Regions from separate parts of the Homo sapiens genome. Here region 1 is linked to region 2. The links come from fine-mapping of genetic effects on gene expression. A gene starts in region 2. The other region holds a variant in brackets. All regions are shown on one strand. Distances are from middle to middle.

Region 1 (2,912 bases), 30 kb after region 2:
ATTCAAGTGGCTGAAACAATAAAGAAAAGCAAGGAACTTATTACTGAAAGAATCGGATACCAAGACAGTGCTTACCTGAGGCGGGAGAATGGTGTGAACCCGGGAGGCAGAGCTTGCAGTGAGCCGAGATTGCGCCACTACACTCTGGCCTGGGCGACAGAGCAAAGATTCTGTCTCAAAAAAAAAAGAAAGAAAAAAAAAAGAAGATAGTGCTTGCCTCTAAGACAGGAAAGAGAAAGGACCTGGAGGGCTTCCAAGGGTGCTGGCAATATTGTGTGCTTTGACGGGGCTGGTAGTGACGTGGGCAAAATAAATGAATTTTTAAATTTACTTTCCTGTTAATGAGTTATAGTAATAATTTAAAAAGTTAAAAAGATAAAGTAACTATCTCTTTGGCCTGGCTTAGTTCACACCTTGTGTTCACACCTGATTTTAGTTCTAGAGATTTCTGTGATTATAACTGGCTTTTAGAAGTGAACGACTGTGTCACTGCATGGCAAAGTGGTCTCCAAAGTGGGATATGCACCCCAGGGAGCACTTGAGAAGACTCATTTGGGTAGGAAAAGAAATTGATTAGGACTTGCATTTACATTCATTTTGTTATCATGAAACATTATGGTAACTGATGGCAACTGTATTGACATTGGCACCATCCTTGAGTCCACATATCTGGGTGGTTAGGTATTGCCTGGGGCATAGGCGAAGTCTCCTGAGCAAAGAATGGGAGTGCCCAGCTCAGGGGCTTCCTAGTGGCTTCCCCACTGTTCCATCTGTCTTTGTTATATTGTGAAATATATTGTGCCTAGTTAACTGGATTTACAAATTCTATATTTTAGTTTTAACAAAACCTCACAAACTAGCAGAATTTTTAAAAGATTCTGGAAAGAATTCTCATAAGTTGAAGACAATTTTAATATTGCAAGCAAAAAAAGAATGGCAAAGCTTTGCATGAACTTTTTGTCAGCCACGTTATGAGTTAATGACAGGGACCACTGAATCAAATCTGGCAAGAAGCTGGCCATGAAAATTTTATGATACCTGGAAAACTAAGGGATTTATATTCACCTTGTTTAATCATGAACTTCGTCCTGTTCGTATTGCCTTGAGATATTATGATTAGAAAACATTGTATTCATTCTGTCATCCTTTTTCCATGTTTTATAAGGTATATAACATATTAATACAATAATACATGTATATGAATTT[A/T]AAAAAAAAGACACATACAAAATGTGAGTAGAAAATAACTTGGATACTACTGTCATGTATTTCAAAGGCTACTTACTGCTCATAGTTAAAATGTGTGGAAAAGTCTGCATATCACAGGCAGGTCATCATACCATTAAAAGACCTTAATTTTTTTTTCTCTTGTGAACCTATTAAAGTGTATTTGATTGTATCACAGCCATTTCTAAAACAGATGTGTACTGCTGTTCCTCACACCAAATGTGTATCCGATACATAACATTTGTTCTACCAGGACTTGAGTAATTACTAATAATATTTCAAGGATGGAAATGATTTAAATGTTCATATGTCTGAAAAATTGATGAATAACTCCCAAAACAATTCAAACGATTCTTTCAGTATTGCCCCTGACAAGTTCTAAATGTTAGTATATTGTCCCCTTTGGATCATTCATTTTAAAGCTGTGAAGAGTGTTGATTCCTTGTTTTTCAAGCACATGTACATATGAAACAACCAAATTTCATATTGTTCATACTTAGTGAAATTTTTTTTCTATTAAAAGAAAATGTCTTTCTTAGAGAAAGCAGATCGCTGAAGAGACAGATATGGTAATAACGATCATTAGTTTACTTGGCCTTGGTTTTCCACAGTGTTGAGTTATAATGTAATCTATAGTTCATCTTTTTAACTAACTCTCAATACATTATCAACCCAGTGCCTCACACTGTTTACAAGGATGATTTATTATTTGTCAGATTTTAAGTGCTAACCTATGAAATGTTAAACTTCTATTGGCAGCCACTGCAGGAAGGTTTGTAGGTGTCCTGACTAATGCTTTGAAAGACCAGCATTAGCAGTAAATCACAGCATACAAAATTTTTTAATAAAGTAATGGAAAGGATTTTACATTCTGGGTCATCTAAGCTTTGGTATTTGGAAGTTAGTTATGTGCGAAATTAAAGGGGTAAAACATTCTCAGGCTTTAACCCTTGAACTTTGGGCCAGCCATAGTCAATAGCAAAAGCATCTTGGTAGCTTTGTTCTCCTAACCCCGAGATTTCTTGGCTATGAGAACTGACAGAGTGCCAAGTATAGGCCTAATTGCATTCCTTGTTACTGAGAAAAAATATCTCAAAGGAATTTTCCTTTTCTTTCAAAGGGGTACCTGGGCATTTTCTGGGATAGCAAAATTGTTTATAAGATGTTTGCAAAACTTTCTGAAAAGAGAACTTGAAGAGGGCTCTGACAGCTAGTTGAAAGGCATGTGTGGCTTACCTAGAGCAGTGGAGAGTTCGGGAGATGCAATTTAAAACGTGAGAGAGATGTGGCTTTGTCCTCTAAAAGCTTGCTTGCTCCTTGATGCACAAGCTGATGGCCTCTCTTCTTTTTCTTTCTCTATGTTCTGCTCAAAGATTTAGCAAGACATTACATAAGATATTCAGCTAGCCCCATAATAGACTGCCAGCTGTCTAGGTTCTGCTTTGTTCACCAATATTTCCTGTGCTGTGTCCACTGCCTAATACATAAGACATACTCAATTAGTATTTGTTGAATGAACATATATATTCAGGTATTTTCTTCTATGATCTATATATTGGTGATTAATTTATTGAACCAGATATACTCTGAAACAAATTAACTTTTTTGTTGTTTTTTGAGACGGGGTCTCACTCTGTTGCTCAGGCTGGAGTGCAGTGGTCCAATCATGACTCACTGCAGCCTCAGCC
Region 2 (2,912 bases):
TCTGTGCCTCAGTTTCTTTCTTTCTTTTCTTTTAAAGGCTCTGGCTCTGTTGCCCACACTAGAGCGCAGGGGTGTGATCCTGGCTCACTGCAACCTTAGCCTACCTGGTTCAGGTAATCCTCCCACCTCAGCCTCCTGAGTAGCTGGGACTACAGGCGTGCACCACCATGCCCGGCCAATTATTATTATTAGTTTTTTTGTTTTGGAGGGATGGAGTTTCACTATGTTGCCCAGGCTGGTCTTGATCTCCAGGGCTCAAGAGATTTGCCCACCTCGGTCTCCGAAAGTGTTGGGATTACAGGTGTGAGCCACTGGGCCCAGCCCTCAGTTTATCTGTAAAACAGGACAAAAGTAGTACCTACCTGATGGGGTTCTTCCAAGGATTAAATGAGCTAGTACTTATAAAGCACTTGCTAATGTCTGTTAAATAAATTATATTATCCACACACCAATCCAAGGCGACTATAAGGTAGCAAGAACCACTCCAAGTCACATAAGAAAATGAATTCCTTTCGTTTTAGCTCCTCTCTTTATTTCAGCAGTGCGTTGTCAACAGGGCCACATTATGTTAGCAGATTTGAACTTTATCCGAAAGGTGTTTGTATTTTATTTCAAATTATGAATTCCTGAACATCGGATTATGTACGATTCTGCAGTGCCCTCGGAGGCCCATTAGAGTCTGGAGCTCGAGAAGCATAACAAACTCTGGTCTGATATTTGTAAGGAGCTTGACAGCCAAGGAGCCACTCAGAAACAGTTATTGGTATTGCCAAAAAAAAAAAAAAAAAAGGAAGCTAAGAAGTCACCCTTCTAAATAAATAAATAAATAAATAAATAAATAAAAACCTGAATTGGAGAGCTGCCTGCATTTCACTCTACTGCCTCTGGAAGAAGAGTGTTATCTAAAGTGCTTCCATCATGAATAATGATTGAGAAACTGCTTTTACTCTCCCGACTACTGTACTCCCAGGCAGAAACCCACGGCTGAAGCCCACGATGCCCATGTGTAACTTGGTTATTACACACACGTTTGGAGCCCAGTGTGCAGACCCGCAGCGCAGAGGAGGCGGCGGAACACCCCGGGTTGGTCGGGTTTCCAAGGGCTGACCCGAGCTCCAGCACTTTTTCCGCGCCTGATTTTTCAGGTCATTTTCGAATGGGCTATCTTTGCTTACATTTTGAGCTTGGATCCTCTCCAGAAAGCATTACTACCTTCTAAAAGGAAAAACATCTCGTATTTGCAGACAGTGCTGAGGGAGCAAAGTTCATTTTCTCGGGTAGGAGAAGATGATTCTCTTGCAACACGTGCGGATTGTGACAAAATCTTTCATTAACAAGGGGAGTTTCGGTGAAGTGGAGGTTTGGGGAAAGGCGAGGAAGTCGGTCTGGAGCAAGCAAGCAAAGTGCGGAAGCTGTACTGGGATTCTTCTAGAAAGTGGGGTGGGAAAGGAGCTAGGGAGGGCGTGTGGAGGGACGAGATCTGTGTCAGAACGTGCGTGTGAGCGGATACAAAACCCGAGAGAGGCGTGAGCAGCGCTGTGTTTGCGAGCGGGAGCGAGGGGCGCCGGCTGGGGTGTGTGCTCCTGGTGAGTGACACCGAGGGGAAGGCGGGCGGGTCGGCGGGCGGGGGCAGCCTGCGAGGGGCGGGAGTGTCCCTGCGTGGGGCGGCCGAGCCGGAGTTGTGTCAGTGAAGGAATCCAGTCCGGGGGCCGAGCTGGCTGCGCCCTCCGCTGCAAGCGCCGGCAGCGCGGGGCGAGCTCCGGACGGCGCGCGGCCCAGGCAGCGGCTCCCGCTCGGCCCGCCCTCCGAGCCGCAGGGGCCGCCACCGCCGCGGCGCCTCCCCTGGCGACCGCGCCCCCGGGCCCCGGCTCCGGCCCGGGACGGAGGAGCCGGCGCTCGACACAGAGGTAAGCCCAGGACCCCCTCCACGCCGGGCCGGCTGGGGATGCAGGGCGCGGGCGGACGCGGAGGGGCCTGCGCGGCCGGGACGGAGACTCGGCTGGGCCGAGCATTCCGCAGCCCGGGCCGCCCAGCCTCCGCCGCCTCCCGGAGCGCTGGGTGTGGCCCGCGCTCGGCGCCGAGGCGGGCTGGTGGCGCGGACCGGACGCGAAGGTCGCCGTCCTTCCTTTCTCCAGCCGGCGCGGGCAAGCGGGAGGAGGCGCCGGCTGGGACGCACAGTGGCGCTCCCCGGGCGAGCGTGTGGCCGCCGCGCTCCGACGTGTACCCGCCCGCCCCGGATCTGAATCGCCCGCGGCCGCCGTCCCTCGCCTGCCGTCCTCCCGCGCGGGCGCCCCCGTTCCCTCCCAAGCCGGAAAGAGACCCACCGTCCCCCAGGCTGCTCTCTGGCCCGGAGCCGCAAAGCCCACGTCAGCCGCGACCACCCCGCCCTCGGATCCCAGCCGGGTGCGGGGGCCGCGGCCCCACTGAACCCCGCGCCCCTGGCGCCCAGCGGGAGTGGGATGCGTTGGCGTCCGCGCTGCGCGGGTGGGCTGGGGTGGCCGGAGCAGACGCGGAGCGCCCTGGCCGCGGGACGAAGCGGTCGCGCCGCCGCATTTGGGCGGGGGGACCCCGGAGTCCGCGGGCTGCGGACCCCAGCGGGAGACGGGGTTGTCGTAGGATGCGCTCGCGCTGGACGCCGGCGCACTCTGAATATCATGCTGCCGCACACGCGGGGCTGAAGGGCCGAGTCTTCACCTGCGCGGGGATGCGGCGGAAGCGTCGCGTCTTCGCGAGTGGAGGTTTCGTGTTCCCGCGGGGTTGGTGTGTTTTTGAACTTCACGAGCTTCTCATCCCCCCCGCAATCCTGGTTTTAGCAGATGTCGGGGTTTTGGAGACCTGACACTTTTCGTGAAAGATTCTTTCTGTACGTTTTCTTTTGGCTATATTACAGGGTTTGTAGCTTGAGAACTAGT

What was found. PIP is the estimated chance that this variant, and not a neighbour inherited with it, causes the effect.
Region 1: its variant is the best candidate, but not a certain one, in a credible set for the expression of SPATS2L in lung (TOPMed, PIP 0.64).

The regions. Positions count from the first base shown.
Region 1 is chr2:200,335,202-200,338,113 of GRCh38, forward strand. The region is part of intron 2 of SPATS2L (spermatogenesis associated serine rich 2 like); the gene reads left to right. Among named protein-coding and RNA genes, the nearest start is that of SPATS2L, 30 kb to the left of the region's middle. The variant A/T (reference allele first, on the strand shown) is at 1,207.
Region 2 is chr2:200,305,016-200,307,927 of GRCh38, forward strand. It overlaps SPATS2L (spermatogenesis associated serine rich 2 like), which reads left to right and starts at 1,678. Exons shown (of 13, transcript NM_001100423.2): 1 at 1,678-1,907. RefSeq lists an enhancer at 1,053-1,152 and silencers at 1,563-2,292, 2,313-2,642.